2 separate regions of the Homo sapiens genome follow, and region 1 is linked to region 2. The links come from fine-mapping of genetic effects on gene expression. A gene starts in region 2. The other region holds a variant in brackets. All regions are shown on one strand. Distances are between the middles of the regions.

Region 1 (8,323 bases), 31 kb before region 2:
ATGAATGAGTGCCCGGCCAGGCTCTGGGCAGGGAAGGGGCTCACCTTGCGGTAGTTCACTCGTGTGTCCTTGAATCTCTGGCTTAGGCTACCAATGCGGTCCAGCACCAGGCGCCAGACCAGGTAGTTCTGTATGGTCCTGGGGGCAGAAGGTAGAGGGTGAGGGGAGAACAGGTGAGAGGTCTTTGCAAGGGAGGAGATATGGCTTAGGGCCCTTGGCCAGCACGTTCCACCCCAGAGAGTTATGGGTGCTGGAGAAAACCTCCAGGACAACCACCTCCAAGATCCAGCCCATCTGCCCCGGGTGCTTGGGATGTGACACATTTTTAATGTAAGACTCCACTGGCCACTAAAGCTTAACCCCTCATGTCCCACACCCCTCAGGGCAGATGCTTCATAGGGTCCCCTCCTGGGAGCAGAAGCTGTGTTGGGGAGGATGGGAGAGCAGGGGCAAAGATGCTGAGGCCTTTGGAGACCCTCCCTGGGCCTCACCTGGCTGAGTAGGTGTCGATGATGTTTTCAAGGTTCTGCAGGTAGGGGATGCCATAGACCACCACTTCCTCATCTGGCAGCAGCTTGATTTTGACAGAGGATAGCACAGTTTGTATGAACAGAGTCCAGTTAAATCCCTGCAGATAGAGGAAGTGGGGAGAAAGAGGGAGAGAGAGAGAGGGAGAAACAGTTCCTGGGAATCTAAGAAACCCAGCCCCTGTTGAAGAATGTTCAAGGAATAAGAGAGAAGTGCAGGTAATCAGAATCAGGAAAGGGTGGGTGACATTATTACAGAGCCTACAGCTGTAAAAACCCAAGCGATCATGCAGATATATGCGAAAGCCTAAGTATAACAGGCAAGTTCCTAGAAAAACACAACTTAGCAAAAATGACAAAAAAAGAAATAGAAAATATGAATAGTCTTCTAGGTTAAATAAATGGAATATTTAATTTGAAACTTTCCAATAAAGAAATTTCCAGACCCATTTGGCTTCACCAGTGGATTCTATCTGACATTTAAGGAAAACTGCCAATCTTATTAAAACTTTCCAGAGATGAGAAAATGCTTTTCAACTTGATTTATGAGGCCAAGAATAACCTTGATACCAAAATAAGGATATTATAAGCAGAGTAAATAATAAGCCAGTCTCGTTTATGTCATAGATACAAAAGTTCTAAGCAAAATATTAGCAAATAGAACCTAGCCATACTTGTATAAAATGCTAATATATCACAGCTGAATTAGATTTATTCAAGGAATACAAGTTTGGTGTAACATTTGAAAATAAAATAATTTTAATTCACTACAATAACTGAATAAAGGAGGAAAGTCACATGATTATTTCAACAGATGCAGAAAAAGCATTTGATAAAATCTGCCATCTATTCATAATAAAAACTCTTGGCAAATAAAAATAGAAGGGGTCAGCCACAGTGGCTCACGCCTGTAATCCCAACACTTTGGGAGGTCGAGGCGGGCAGATCACCTGAGGCCAGGAGTTCAAGGCCATGCTGGCCAACATGGTGAAACCCTGTGTCTACTAAAAATGCAAAAATTAGCTGGGTGTGGTGGCGCATGCTGTAGTCCCAGCTACTTGGGAGGCTGAGGCATGAGAATCGCTTGAACCTGGGAGGCAGAGGTTATGGTGAGCTGAGATCACTCCACTGCGCTCCAGCCTGGGCAACAGAGCAAGACTTTGTCTCAAAAAAAAAAAAAAGATAAAAAGAAAAATAGAAGGAAAATTCTATAACCTGATAAAGGAAATGTATGAAGCAGCAGAAGCAACAAAAACAACTCCATAGCAAACATAACTTTTTTTTAAATTTATTTTTGAGACAGAGTCTCGCTTTGTTGCCCAGGTTCAAGTGCAGCAGTGCAATCTTGGGTCACTGCAACCTCTGACCCCTGGGTTCAAGCAATTCTGCTGCCTCAGCCTCCCTAGTAGCTGAGATTACAGGCATGTGCTAACACACCTAGCTAGTTTTTGTATTTTTAGTAGAGACAGGGTTTCACCATGTTGGCCAGGCTGGTCTCAAGCTCCTGACCTCAGGTGATCCACCTGCCTCGGCCTCCCAAAGTGCTGGGATTACAGGCATGAGCCACCATGCCTGGCCAAACATAAAATTTAGTGGTAAGAATATACGTGCTTTTCTTTTAATGTCTACTATTATGACATCAGCATTATGCTCAAAATCCTGTCCAGTTCAGTAAAAGCAAACATGAAATAAAGCCAGTAAGAACTGAAAGAGAATAAATAAAACTGGACCAGGTGCGGTGGCTCATGCCTGTAATCCCAGCACTTTGGGAGGCCAGGGCGGGAGGACTGCTTGAGCACAGGAGTTCAAGACCAGCCTGGCCAACATAGAGAAACCCTGTTTCTGGGAAAAAAAAAAAAATCAGGCAAGGCTTGGTCATGGTGTATTCCTGTGGTCGCAGCTACTCAGGAGGCTTGAGCCCAAGAGGTCAAGGCTGCAGTGAGCCATGACTGTGCCACTCCACTCCAGTCTGCATGACAGAGTGAGACCCTGTCTCAAACAAACAAACAAACAAACAAAACCCAACCCCCCTGTTTTTTTACAAATGATATGATTTTGTTTATTCTACAAATAAATAACCAGAACTAATAAGTGCATTGAGTAAGACTGCATATTTACAAAGTCAGTATTTCCATATATCAGCAACAAATAAGATAATTTCAAAATGATTCTATTTATAGTAGAAAACCAAACACCTGTAATTTATCTAATAAAATATGTATAAGAACTTGACACTGAAAGCTTTAAAAGTTATTAAGAAAAATTGAAGCATAAATGGAAGCATATATCATGTTCATGGATTGGAAGACTCAGCATTGCAAAGTCTCCCCAAATTGATAGAGAGATTCAAAGTGATCCCTATCAAATTTCTAGCAGAGTTTTCTTTTTGTGTGTGTGCGTGTATGCAAATGGAAGGCAGATTTTAAGTTTTATGTGAAAATGCAAAGGACTGAGAATTATCAAGACACTCTTGAAGAACAAAGTTGAAATATATACTCTATTGACTATCAAGACATTATAAAGCTGAAGGAGTGATGGTGGTAGGGGTTATCACTTGGATAGATAAAGAGACCAGTGGGGCAAAAGAGAGTCCAGAAATATACATATGGGCCCACGCATAGACACACAGGAACACCTGATTTATAACACAGAAGGCACCAAGACCAGGGGCTCACAGGGGGCTCTTTTTAATAAATGGTGCTGAATGACTGGAAATCCATAAGAAAGAAACAATTCCTACATCTCACTGTCCATTAAAAAAATCAACTCACAGTAGATTGTAGACCTAAGCAAACCTGAGGGTAGGCAAAGAGTTCTTTAGCAGAACACAAAGAATACTAACCACGAAGAAGAGATCTGCACACATTTGCTAAGCCAATAAATTGGACCATTTAATAGCCTCCATTGAAACAAAGAAACCCTTATGAGAGTAAAAAAGCAAGCTGCCCAGTGGGGAGAACATTTGTACACATAAGCTGACCAAGGAGTCACATCTAAAATAGGTAACTCCAAGAATCAATCAGAGAAAGATCGCCCGATAGAACAAATGGGCAAGACTCAAACAGACGTTCCACAAAAGGGAATGGCATTGGCCAATTGACAGGAGATGGCGTTTAACCTCCTCCGCCCTTGGGGAAAGTCACATTGAACCCAGATGAAACCCCACTACACAGGTGCAGAAACGGCTGAGAACGGACACCACCCAGCACGGGCGAGGGTGTGGCACCAGCCGCTGTTGGGGAGCGCACATCCCTGGATAATTCTGGGGAAAGACAGTGCCTGTTACTGTTGAACAGATGCGTGTGCTTCCACCCAGCAATTCCACTCCTACCCACTTGCCTGCCACAGGCACACACAGGCATGGGCATGACAACATCACTCAGAAAAGGCCCAGAGACAGCACAGTGGGACCCGAGTTGTCGCATGTTCTTAGAGTCAGAGGCCACTCAGCAATCTAGAGGCCACGTCAGGGACCGGCCTCCCTCCAGGGAGAAGTCAGGGTCTCTTCTCCAGGGAAGGAGGCAGGCACAGGGGCTAGGCAGGGGCATGTGGGGGCTTCTGGGATGTCGGTGGTCACGTAAGTCTTGATCTGAGGGGTGATTGTGTGGATGTGTTCACTCTGGGGCGATTCTGAACATCATAAATGCATTGTAAACCAAATGT[C/T]CCCAAACCCTGGGCTCCTGGACGCTCCCCTGAACCTGCCGCTGTGATGTCTCCACGGCAACCTCAGGCCATCTGAGCTCTCTCACTTCCATATTTAGTCCTTTTGCAAACCCTGTTGGCTCCACTTCCAAAATCAACCCCAAAGCCACCTCCACCACGGGCACCCCCCTTGGCAGAGCTGCCATCTCTTGCCCGGGCTACGTGGCAGCCTCTGATTGGCTTCTCTGCCACCTGCCCCGTCCCCTTCACTCACTCTTACTTGTGAACCAGGTCACGTCCTGTCATACCCCCACTCCTCTCGGGCAGAGTCTGAGACTTTCAAGTGGCCCCCGAGGTCGGACACGGCATCCCCCGCTTTACTTCCTACTCCATCTCTCTCTAGCCCCGGTGCTCATTAGCTGGGAGTCCCTGCCCCAGACTCTTGGGGAACTGCTGTGTGAGCCACACTGGCCCCAGATGGCCATGGCCCTTGGTTCTCTGCAAGGCTTTACCTCCTGTCTGCTGTCCTGGCTGAGCTCATCCTGCCCCCTTTCTGGCTTTCTGACACGTTTTAGAGGTCACTCCGCTTTTCTGTCCCTCTCCCGCACCGGAACCTCGATCGAGATAGGCCTTTGTTTGGGAAGGGGATAAAGCCCAGTGCCAGAGCAGAGCCTGGCCCCACTGCGTGTGTTCTGGGCAGCGGGGTGTTGGGGAAGGTGTGTCCCCGCAGGCCAGCCCTGGGGACCAGAACCGATCTAGGGACCACCAGCCTTCCAAGGCACTAGGTGCCCTGGGGCGAGGCTCTCCCCAGAGTCTCTCTGTCTTGCCCTTGGCAAGAGCTGTGGCTCCAGACACTCAGGGACATACTCTGGTTGAGGGGGCAGGGGCTTTGGACCCCCTTCTGCCCTTGCCCTCCCCCCACTGACTTGGGCACCCTTTGCCGAAGCTGCACGCCTGCGCCTCCTGGGGGAGGAGGCCCTCGAGAAGGCCAGCTGCTCCAGCAGGGTGAGAGTCGGCTGAGGGAGTGGGGGACTTGCCCCTTCCCAGGCTGGGCTGCTCCTCTCCAGCCCCCACCTCAAAGCACAGGGCGGTGCCTGGCCTGGGCACTGGGCAGGGGAGCGCCTGAGGGTGTGGCCAGGGGGAACTGCTACCCTCAGGGCAGGCAGGACTGGGAGGAAGCACCCTGCTAAGGTTCTGAGCGGGACTTGGGGTCTGAGAGCCCTGGGTGGGACCCTGTACACCCCCACACATCAGCAGCCCCCTGAGGCCTCCGTTTCCTGCTCAGAAGACCGGGGCCATCACAGCACCGCACAGATGGGTGACTCTGTTCCAGGATGGCACAGTTGGCACTGCTGTCCCAGTGACATTAGTAATCGTGCTGGTGCTGCTCTGCAGCAAGTTTGGGTGATCAGGTACAGGGTCTCCCTGCTCGGGGATGGGGAATGTTTCTGAGCTTAAATGCCAGGCAACGTGCCCTCTCAGAGGGCCGCTTCCATGTCCCCCACGAGTCTCCACCCGGCCAGTGCCGGCCTCCTGTGTGGTGTGGCCTCACCTTCAGGCCAAACTGGCTTTGCAGCTCCTCCAGTCCCATCCGGTGGTACAAGGCGATGACGTCGTGTCTCTCCTCCTGGGGTACCGTGGCCTGTGCCGGGGATAGCAGTCACACGGGCGGGTGGCCAGGATGCCCCCTGGGGCTCCTGGCCCAGTCCCTGCCTGCTACCGGCCCACCCAGCACCCCCTCACCTTGGCCAGCCACACCGCCTGGGGCTCCCAGCCCACTCGCTGCCCGCTCCCCACCCGCCCCGGCCCCCTTACCTTGGCCAGCTGTGTCTCCAGCTCCAGCACCTGCACCATGTCCTCCTGCACCAGGCAGCTGTCCCTGGGCAGGTTTGCATCCTCCCGCAGCAACGTGGCCACTGACACCATGAACTGCAGGTAGGCTTCCCGCACCTGGGCCAAAGGACGCCGGGCAGAGCTGGGTGGCCTCAGCCACCATGGCCCCCAGGGAGTTTTCTGTGGGGGTGGGGTGGGCGTAGGACATGGGGAAGCCCCTAATGCGTGTCCACCCACCTTGACCAGCAGGCTCTCGGGCACACAGAGTGCCGAGTGGGAGCGTCTCAGACGCGTGACCTGTGCCCGAGCCACTGGACGGGGTACCTAGTCTGCAGGGCTGCTCAGGGCTTAAACTGTGTGGCTGCCTATAAGGGTTTGCACAGGTGGGTGCTGGGGCTCTCAGTGCTGGGGTTGGGGTGCTGGGCTTGGGGTGCCAGGGCTAACTTGGGCCTGCCGGGGCTGTGGGTGCCAGGGTGGTGGGTGCCGGGGTGGTGGGTGCCAGGGCTAATTTGGGCTTCCCTACCCAGGTGCTTCCCGGCCTGAGTGTCTGGAGTGGGATCCTGAGGAAGTTTGCTCCTCAGGGAGCTGCCTTCCTCGCGCTGGGCAGGGCTTCCCCAGTGCAGGCCAATGCTCTGGCCAGGCTTGGCCCATAGCTGCCTGGTCTGAACACATGGCCAGACATGGCGCTTTTGAGACACTCCAGTCCCTCCTGCTCTGGCGTGGTTCTCTCAGCCCCACTGCTCCACCTTTGGCCACACGGCCCTTCCTCTGGGCTTGGTCATCCTTCAAAGTCTAGTTCATAGCCCACCTCCACCAGGAGGCCCCCTGGATTGTGTCTGGCCCTCTGGGGCATTCATGCCTCATGCCTGTTCACCTCTGCCCTGGTGCTGGATGCCTTGCCCTCCTCACCTGCTCCCTGTCCTTCCCCACCCTTCCCTGCACCCTGGGCTAGCCCTGGGCCTGCCAGCCTCAAGGTCCCCTTGTCCACAGTGGGGGTCCTCATCCCTCCCCTCTCTTGACAGCCCCTTGAGATGGAGCAGGCTCGGGGCCCAGCTGCCTGCACTCAGATCTCCAGGGGCCCTCCTGGGAATCCGGTGCTGCAGAGCCTGGGTCTGTACTGACGGGAGGGGGATGACAGTTCTGCCCCATGGGGCTGCTGCTGAGCTGAGCTTGTCCCCAGGCCTGGCCCGGGTGTTGAGGGAACGTCCCCCAGGATGGTGGCAAGCAATAGGTCACGTCTGCACCCGCCACCCTCAGTGCCGGGCTCAACCTCCACAGGTGCTCACTAACACCAGCTTCGGGGAGGGAAGGCCAGGTGGGCAACGGGAAGGCCAGACCACGGGGTAGGGGGTGATGGGGGGGTCATCTGGCATTGCGGTGAGGACCCACCCACCTTCCGGTTGCTGCCGCCGTTGAAGTAGTACTCTCGGGAGGGCATGCCCAAGGTGGGCTGGTCTATCTGGAAATACAGAAGGTGTGACCCTGGGCAAGGGGCCCGGGGTCCCCGCAGCCTGGCTGAGGCAGGCTGCAGCCGCCTCCCCACAGGACTGTGCCCCGTGCACACGTGCTCTGCCCAGGAGCTGGTGGTGGAGCTTGTGCCGGACCCGGGAGGCCAGACCCTGCCCCGAGTGATGGTGGGGGCGCTGGGCTGGACTGGAGAGGGTGGCGGGGGTGGGGTGGGGAGGGGTTCAGGCTGTCCCGGGCCTCGCAGCACCCGCGGCTCCCCCAGAGTGGGGCGCGTATTTGTTTCGTGTGTTTCTCTTTGGCCTCCAGCCCGTGGCCAGCAGTGGATCCCTGAGGTCAGGCCTCCTGCCCCGGTTCCAGCCCCGCTGTTCAGGAGCCCCCGCCCCTCTGACCAGAACCGGGTTCTACTGTGGCCCCCAGCTTGGCCAGGAGGCCCAACAGAAACTCCAGCAGCAGCAGCTCGTTCCCGGGCCCACGGACGTGGACAGGAGCCAGGAGCCCAGGTCCCAGGAGACCCCGGAGCTCCCTGTCGGCCTGGCCCATCCTTCTGCTGTGCTGCAAGAGCCCCCAGCCAGGCTTGGGGACCCTGCCTACCCCTGCCCACCGGCGCGGCTCGTACGTAGATGATGTGCCGGCTGGAGTTCTGGTCGTCGTTCCAGATGAAGAGGTCGATGAGGACGCGCCTGTTGAACTGTGAGTTCATCAGCGCCAGCTGCCGCTCCAGCTCCCACTCGAGTCCTGGGGAGACAGTGCCCCGCACTGGAGACTGGCGGGCCCTGGGGCCCCAGCCCGGCCCCTTGTCGGTGAATCTGGCCTCCGGAGCCAGGAACTAGGGGGCCATAGGGTGGGGAGCTCAC
Region 2 (8,323 bases):
GCAGCGGGGGAGTGAGGCAGCCAGGTGAGCCCGGGCGGCGGGAGGGACACGGACGCCGGTGGTCCCCAGCCGGGGCTGCGCGGCCAGGCAGGGAGGGGGTGGGCGGAGGGGCGGGCGACGGGTCTGCGCCCCCCACCCTCCGGGAGTCCGGCGGAGGCGGAGGCGGAGGCGGAGGCGGGCGGGTGCGGAGCTGCAGAAGCAGCGCGCGGGAGTCGGGGCCGGGGCAGAGCTTTCTGGAAGGGACCGCGGGCTCCCTGCAGGTCAGTGCCCCTCCCGCCGCCTCTGAGTCCGCAGCTCGGCCCCGGGAGCCCCTGGGTGCCCAGTGCAGACCCACCTGCCCCATCTGACGGGCGGGCTCGGGCTGGGGGCAGGCGGACCCTGCAGCAGGTGCAGCGGGGCGAGCGCGGAGAGCGGGCACGGGGACAGGCGGGGGCGGGGCACCCGCACTCACCTCTGCGGTCGGCGTAGAGGACACCCAAGGCCACCAGGGCAGCGGTCACCAGCAGCAGCAGCAGCAGCAGCCCCCCCTCCAGGAACCCCGGGCGCTTCTGCCCTGCACGGCCGGCGCTCTCCACCATCCCCACTGGGCCTTCGGACTTCCCCATCAGCAGGGCTCTGGACGGGAGAGCACCGCGGAGGAACCTGCAGGCCCAGGGCAGGGGAGAGGGGAGAGGGGCGTGGAGCTCCCCGAGCCCGGCCCGAGGCTGGAAGGGCCGGATGCTGGCTGGGAGCGGGCGCTGGGTGCCTTTGGAACACTCTTCCCGTCTCCCTCTCCAAGCTCACAACCCTGGGTGACTGGGTCCCGGGACTTTCCACACTACCCCTGGGCCGGAATCTCTGAGTGCATGGAGGTTCTAGGACTGGGATGCTCCCAGCTTGGGGTCGCAAGCTGGACCCAGGAGGCTCAGCTCCTGTGCTGTCAAGGGACTCCTGTAGTGGAGCCCCCCCCCTGGGCTGCTCATGCTGGTTGTCTTGGAGCTGTGGGCCTGAGCGCTAGGTCAGGGACGCTGTCGGGGAGGCCACTTGGGCTTCTGGGCTCCCAGCCCACCTTTCCTGTTGAAGCCCAGAAGCCAGTGATGGGCGACACCAGAACAGTAGGTACCCACACAGGCGGTGACTACGTGGGCCAGGAAGGGATCTGCAGGGCCAGGCAGGCTTGAGTCTCAACCCTGGCAGCCACCTGGCTGGTGTGCAGCTCTGGTCGTCCCCTGACCCTGTTACTATGGAGGGGACACCTTCTGGAGCCAGCAGGGCAGTGGGCAGCACTTGAAGACACACACGGCTGGGCACAGGCTGCTGCTGTAGGCAGGACAGGGAGCTGGGCAGGAAGGGTTGGGGCACAGGACACTGGACTCAGGAGGCTCCCAAGTCTGCGTGCTCCAGTGTGCGTGTATGTGTGGGAGTGTGAACCTGAGTGTACACATGTGTGCAAATGAGTGTGTGCATGTAGTTGGGCGTGTGCATGTGTATGACTGTGCGTGTGTGCATATGTTCTGATGTATGATCGTGTACACACACGTGTGCACATGTTCTGGTGTGTGCATGTGCATGACTGCATGAGCGTGAACGTGTGTGTGCGCTCTGGTGTGTGCATGTGTGTGTGTGCACGTGTGTGCGTGTGCTCTCGTGTGTGCGTGTGCATGATTGCGTGGATATGCACTGTCTACGCTCATGTGTGCATGTGTGTGACTGTGAGTGAGTGTGCACGTGTGTGTCCTCGTGTGTGCATGTGTGTGACTGCACGTGTGTGCCTGTGCTCGCGTGTGTGCGTGTGCATGATTATGTGTGCGGATATGCACGTGTGTGCGTGTACACTCGTGTGTGCACGTGTGTGACTGTGTGATTGTGCACGTGTGCGTGTGCTCTCATGTGTGCATGTGCATTATGTGGATATGCACGTGTGTGCCTGAGTGTGCACGTGTGTCCTCTCGTGTGTGCGTGTGCATGATTATGTGCGTGGATATGCACCTGTGTGCGTGTACTCTCGTGTGTGCATGTGTGTGACTGTGCATTGTGTGCGTGTGCTCTTGTGTGTGCATGTGCATGATTGTGTGCGTGGATATGCACGTGTGTGCGTGTACGCTCGTGTGTGCACGTGTGTGACTGTGATTGTGCACCTGTGCGTGTGCGCTCATGTGCATGTGCATGATTGTGTGTGTGGGTGTGCACGTGTGTGCGTGTGCTCTGGTGTGTGGCTGTGCATGTCTGTGTGTGTGTGCACATATGTGAGCACATGCATGGATGTGCACATCCCTCGCTGGCACTCGGAGCCCTGCTGGGAAGTTGCCCGGTCCTAGGGAAGCGGCTGGGTGCTTTGGCCTTCCAGCACTTTCAGTCGTCACACGCAATCACACACCTGCTGTGCTGAGCCCCAGCTTAGCCCTGTACCAGGCAGGGCGGATAATGTGGGAGCAGCGAAAGGAAGCCAGGCCCAGTCCTGCCTGTGGGTGGGTCAGGGACTGGCTGCTGAGACTGCCAGCACCTGGGCTAAATGTGCTTCCGCCCCCCTGTACCCCACCGCCCCCCTGCTGTGGACTTTGCCTGAGTTCTGTCCCTGACTCCCTGGGAGATCCTAGATGTCCCTTAGCCTGTCTGGGCAACACCCTGCAAAGGTGGCTGGGCCAGCTCATTTCAGCGACTCCTCCAGAGATCCCTGACCTCTGGCTGTGTGAGGAGCGGGGACGGGGACCTGGACCTCACTCCTCTCCTCCAGGTCCCTCGCTCCTCCCTTCCTGTCCCCTCAGCCACCTCTCTCAGTCCCTGGCTCTGTGAACCGCAGCGTTCATGCATCCACACACCCTCAGATGCTTCCTTTGACGCCCTCTGCTGTGCCCCTAGACACCCCTATCCCGCCACTGGCTGAAGCTGGACTTTGGAGCCATCTGCCTCCCTTGCCTGCGTCCACACCCCGCGCCAGTCCTCAGCCTCCAAGCCCATCTCAGTCGGACCCTTTCTCATTCCTGCCACTCGCTGCCTGTTCCAGGCCCCACCAATCACCTCCCCCTGAGGGGTCTGTCTCACCCACTGATCCCCACCACAGGGGCCCAGGGGCCTGTAACTAGAATCAGAGGCCGTCACTCCCTGGCCCCTGGTAGCCAAACCCTTGGAGGAAGAGCCGGGCCTTGCCCTGATGTCAGGACCCTCTTTGGCCCTCCTCCCCTCTCACTATGCCCTCCCCTTACCCTCAGGCAGGCCCACCAGGTTTCTCCCCCCACCCTCCCCACCCACCCAGGCAGGCCTCCCAGATTCCTGCCAAGCTCCCCTTCCCAGTGGGGCCTTCCTTGGCTCGGCCTCGGGTTCAACTCGGGGAGCCCCAGCCCCTCCCCTGCTCTGTGTCTCTCCAGGGACTCCCAGCTCCACCTCCACATCTCCTCGATACTTCTGCAGCCCCCTGGGAACGTCAGCTCCACGGGCAGGGGCACCCTCTGTGGGGGCCGCTTCACCTAGACTGGCACCCCCACCCCAGAGACCTCGGTCATTATCTGTTGGGTGAATGAATGAATGAATGATGAATGAATGGATCAATCATTTGGACAAGTCTGAGCTCAGCTTCCACGAACTTCTTTCTTTGGTCAGAATTAATGAATCTGCTCCTGCGTCCTGAATTCATTCTGTCCTGCAGGTATCCACAGACGGCTCCATGTGCCCCACGGCACACACAAAATAAACACCTTCAAATTGAGCCAAGTACCCGGGGCAGGTGTGGAGTGTCTGCTGAGGCGAAGGCACTGCGGCTCCCTGGGGACACTCGTGGCCTCTCCAGGTTACTACAGATGGGGGACAGCGGGTCCTTTGGGTAAGATAAACCGTATGCCAGAGGGGGCTGCCTGCCCTGGCACAGGCGAGACTGCACACAGGACGCCCTGCCCAGCCTCCTGAGAAAGGGGCTGAGCGCCTGGAGAGGGTTTCAAGGCCCAGGAGAGGGCCTGGAGAGGGTTTCAAGGCCCAGGAAAGCAGGCCGGGTACCTTCCTTCAGCACAACTCACCTTTGCTCACTCAGGAGTGGCTGCCGCCCACAGTCAGGCCCCTGGAGACTGGGTCCCAGTGGGTTGGAGTTGGGGTGAGCTGGGCCAAGTGGGTGGATTTCCAGGGACTGGGATGGGAGAGCAGTGGCTTGGGGCTGAGTTGAGGCTGCCTGAAGGCTTCTGGGCCTCCTTTGTGATGCAGGCATGGGCTCCCTGGAGGCGGTGACTCCTGCTCACAGTCAGGAGGTTCCACTGGGGGTGTGGCATGGGGGGAGGGGCTGAGGGCAGCTTCTTGGCACCCGGGCTGCCCTGCCTCATGGGTGCCCTTCTCAGGGCCTCTGGCCCCGCCTCCCAAGCCGCCCTCCTTCCTTGCTTCTGTCTCCTGACCTTTCAGTCCAAAGGGGCCCCAGGGGCTGCTGGGAGGAAGGTCAGGCCCTTGTCCTACTCCACACCCTCTGCTCTGCCCCTAACCACCCGGTGGGGGGTTACAAAGGCCCCACCCTGGGTGTTCTTTCTCTTCAATCTCCAAGGAGGATGGTGGGTTCTGGGGATCTTGCCAAGGTGCAAGGGGAAGGGGTGGTCCTGAAGGGGGTGGGCGCTGGCTGCCAGGAGGGTCCCACCCAGAGATACTAGCCTGGGTTTGGCTGCTTCCCTCTGCCCACAGAAAACTCATGAGGTTCAGACCTCAAGCTACAGAGGGTGGGCAGCCCTGGCCGGGGAGCTGGCAGAAGGGCTCTGTGGCTTCTGAAGGGTTCGCAGTGATCAGAGTGTGAGCCCTGCACCCAGCCCTGCTTGCGGACGGGGGTTCTGGGCAGAGCAGTCTCTGTCTGATTCTCCAGGCCTGATGAGGTTTCTAGCTTCTGTTTCAGAATCCCCAGAACGAGTCCTCCTGCCCAGGCCTTGGGCATGTGTCAGGGCATCTGGGCAGGGCTGGGCCACAGAGCTAGGGGTCCCACGGCAAACTGCTCCTCACGGCCGCCCCGGCCAGGTCTCCCACGCTGAGTGCTGTTGGAAGCTTTGTCTATGGCCCTTTAGGTTGGCCAGGCCCTGGGAGGAGAAAGGCTTCGAGCTGCAGCCAGGCTGGGATCAGATCCCAGACACCACCCTGAGCCCGGGAAGTCTCTCCCTGGGGCCCGCTGGCTGTCCTAGCAGCCCCCTGCCATCACGCCCAGCAACCAGCCCAGGAGCTGCAGTCTGGCCTCAGGCTGCCTGGGTTGCTGGCCCAAATGGAAACAATGTCAAGGCCAGCCAAGCAGGAAGCTGGGACCGCCCTTTCTGGGGAGCTGGGAGTGGGCCAGGGTCCAGCCTGGCTGGAGGCTCCTGCTATGGGGAGAGGCCAGAGCCTTTCCGAGCCCACCTGCCCGACAGCCCTGGTGCCAGCAGGCCCTTTCTGGATGTCACAGTGTTCTTGTCTCTAAGGTACAAATCCACAGAGGGAGAAACAGATGCAGGGGCCTGGCCTACTCTCAGCAGGGGCTCCCTGGACTCTGAACCGACTCCCCAAGGCTGGCCCTGTGCATGCTCCTCCTTCCCGAACCCCAGGCCTGTCCAGCCCAGCAGCCCCCAGCCTGGCCCAAGGCCACCTGGTGACCTGGGCTGCCAAACTTGGGACCCCTTATTCCCAGGTTCTCCCTACTTCTAGGTGACAGCAGGAGGCTTGGGTCCTAGCCTGGCACCTGCCAGACAAGAGAAACTGGGAAAGGAGGCTAAAGGCCAAGGAGGCTGCAGACCCCGAGACCTACCCCGGTCACTGGACACTCACAGATTTGCAGGTGCCCAGGGCAGTGCAACCCAGCCGCCCCAAACACCTGCACAGATGACTCTCTCCCCAGACACCCGCACAGACCGTCCCCCCAGACACCCACACAGACCATCCCCCCAGACACCCACACAGACCATCCCCCCAGACACCCACACAGACCATCCCCCCAGACACCCGCACAGACCATCCCCCCAGACAACCTACACAGAATAAACTGTCCCCCCAGATACCTACACAGACCATCCCCCCAACACCCACACAGACCATGCCCCCAAACACCCACACAGACTGTCCCCCCAAACACCCACACAGACCATCCCAACACCCACATAGACCATGCCCCCAAACACTCACACAGACTGGCCCCCCAAACACCCACACAGACCATCCCCCCAACACCCACATAGACCATGCCCCCAAACACCCACACAGACTGTCCCCCCAGACACCCGCACAGACCATCCCAACACCCACATAGACCATGCCCCCAAACACCCACACAGACTGTCCCCCCAGACAACCTACACAGAATAAACTGTCCCCCCAGACACCCACACAGACCATCCCCCCAGACACCCGCACAGACCATCCCCCGCAAATACCTGCATGGATTGTCCCCCCAGACACCCGCATAGCCAGAGCCCAGCACCCCGGAGGTGGACATTAATCCCATCTCCTAGGGAGATTGGGGGAAAATGGGTGTTCCCTGCCCCTCCTACTCTCTGGGTTGCTGTGGGATGTGGAGATCCAAGGAGCAGCCCCAGCTCAGGGGTCCAAGGAGGCAGGTGGGACGGGGGTCAGGGAAGTGCTTCCTGCAGCAGCCCTGGGGCCAGGGTGGGCCTTGAGGGCACTAGCCTTTGTCCACACTGCTGTGGGGCTGCCCTCACCCAGGTTGCCGTGTCCACCCTGCCTTGGGGGCTGCCCTCAGGCCCTGGAGACGCCTGCCTGTGACTGCCCCACACTCTCAGGCCAGGCTACTGGTGGCAGGTCCTGTGCTTTGGTGCACCCCAGACGTGCCCAACGGGCATTTCCTCTGCCCATTGGGAGCAGGGCCTCTCCCTCAGGTCTGCCCAGCTACGCTCTGGGCAGGAATGAGGTGCCCCACTTAGAGAAGATGCACAGGTCAGAAGAGGCTCACCAGCATTTCTGGGTGAGCCTCTTTCCGGCTGCTGGGACGACAGCCGGGCCTCTGGGGTCCCCACCTTCCTTGTCAGCTGCCTCCTGAAGTCAGGCCCTGGGTATCCAGGGCAGGAGGGAAGGGGCCCAGTGGTCCCGCTGCCCCAAAATCTGTGTCATTGAGCCACCAGCCCATCCCCAGTAGCTGGAGCCTCTGCCTCCTCACTTGTGAATTCCAAAAATCTGAGACAGGTCTCAGCCAATTTGGGAAGTTTATTTTGCCAAAATTAAGGATGCACACCTGTGACACAGCCTCAGGAGGTCCTGACATGTGCCCAAGGTGGTCAGAGGACAGCTTGGTTTTATACATTTTAGGGAGATATGAGACATCAATCAACACATGTAAGATAGAGTTACATTCTTTTGAGTTTCTGATGAGCCTTTCCAAAGAAGGCAATCAGATATGCATCTATCTCAGCGAGCGGGGGAATGACTTTGAATGGAATTGGAGGCAGGCTTGCCCTAAGCAGTTCCCAGCTTGACTTTTCCCTTTGGCTTAGTGATTTTGGGGCCCCAAGATTTATTTTCCTTTTACTCTCCTAAAAAGGTTTTTTTTTTTTCTTTTTTTTCCAGATTGATCGCAGAGTTGAACAACAGAGAATGTGTGCACAGTGCCAGGCACAGGTGTGGTCAAGATTCACCTGGGAGAGGAAGTGGGCAGGGGCAGAGGAGTGTGCCCACCTGAGCTGAAAGGCTGCATGGCAGGTGACCATTATCACCAGTGTCGCCAGCCAGGTCACCTCTCTGAATTTTGTGGTTGCAACCTCCATGATTCCCTAGAGCTGTTTTTACCCAGAACTAATGAAAAATTCTGCACATTAAATTCATGCTATTAGAATCACTGTTGTGGTTTCCATCTCCCAAGTAGACCCCAACTGATACATAAATTCATACTAGGAGGGGGTCCCCAGAGACAGGCCCTCAAAGTGACACAGTCAGGTACCTCTTTGGTCACTTTGCCAGCCAGGTACCTCTGGCTGCTGACACCCCCCCTCCCCAGGCCTCTCTTGGCCATGCTACCTGCCGCAGGAGGTGGCCCACCCACTCAGCCTGCCTGGGCCACACCTGGCTGTTCACCAGCTCAGCCTGTGGCTGGGCTGGGCATGTTCCAGCCTGCTTGTGTTATAGCTTGTACCCATGTATGGCAGTTCCCAAGTTCTTGTCCCGTGTCCAAGAAGAATGAGGAGATGCTGCCAATCGAAGTGTGAGAAGGGCAGAGAAGAATTTTATTGAGAGACGGAACAGCTCTCAGCAGAGAGGGGATGCACGGGTGGTTCCCGACCTGAAGTCAGGTGGTTTCTCTCCTAGTGTGGCTGGGTCCGGGGCATTTATGGGCTCAGAATGGGGGAGTGCATGCTGATTGGCTTCTGATTATGCAAAAAAGGCTTAAACAAAGGTACCACTCAAAGGTGGGCATGCC

Direction of the effects. Alleles are on the strand shown, and positions count from the first base shown. SD is a standard deviation of normalised expression in the study named.
As copies of C replace T in region 1, the expression in esophagus muscle of the gene that starts at base 4,137 in region 2 goes down (large effect, 1.1 SD a copy in GTEx).

The links. PIP is the estimated chance that this variant, and not a neighbour inherited with it, causes the effect.
Region 1: its variant is fine-mapped to the expression of MMEL1 in esophagus muscle (GTEx, PIP above 0.99).

What each region holds. Positions count from the first base shown.
Region 1 is chr1:2,598,163-2,606,485 of GRCh38, forward strand. It overlaps MMEL1 (membrane metalloendopeptidase like 1), which reads right to left. Exons shown (of 24, transcript NM_033467.4): 8 at 8,086-8,204; 9 at 7,396-7,461; 10 at 5,985-6,119; 11 at 5,722-5,811; 12 at 492-628; 13 at 45-138. Among named protein-coding and RNA genes, the nearest start is that of PRXL2B, 16 kb to the left of the region's middle. The variant C/T (reference allele first, on the strand shown) is at 4,191.
Region 2 is chr1:2,628,880-2,637,202 of GRCh38, forward strand. It overlaps MMEL1 (membrane metalloendopeptidase like 1), which reads right to left and starts at 4,137. Exons shown (of 24, transcript NM_033467.4): 1 at 3,987-4,137; 2 at 452-642. The coding sequence starts at 605. TTC34 (tetratricopeptide repeat domain 34) reads right to left here. Exons shown (of 9, transcript NM_001242672.3): 9 at 8,107-8,323. MMEL1-AS1 (MMEL1 antisense RNA 1) reads left to right here. Exons shown (of 3, transcript NR_183343.1): 1 at 1-24; 2 at 3,623-3,796; 3 at 7,477-7,741. RefSeq lists a silencer at 391-685 and an enhancer at 1,867-2,367.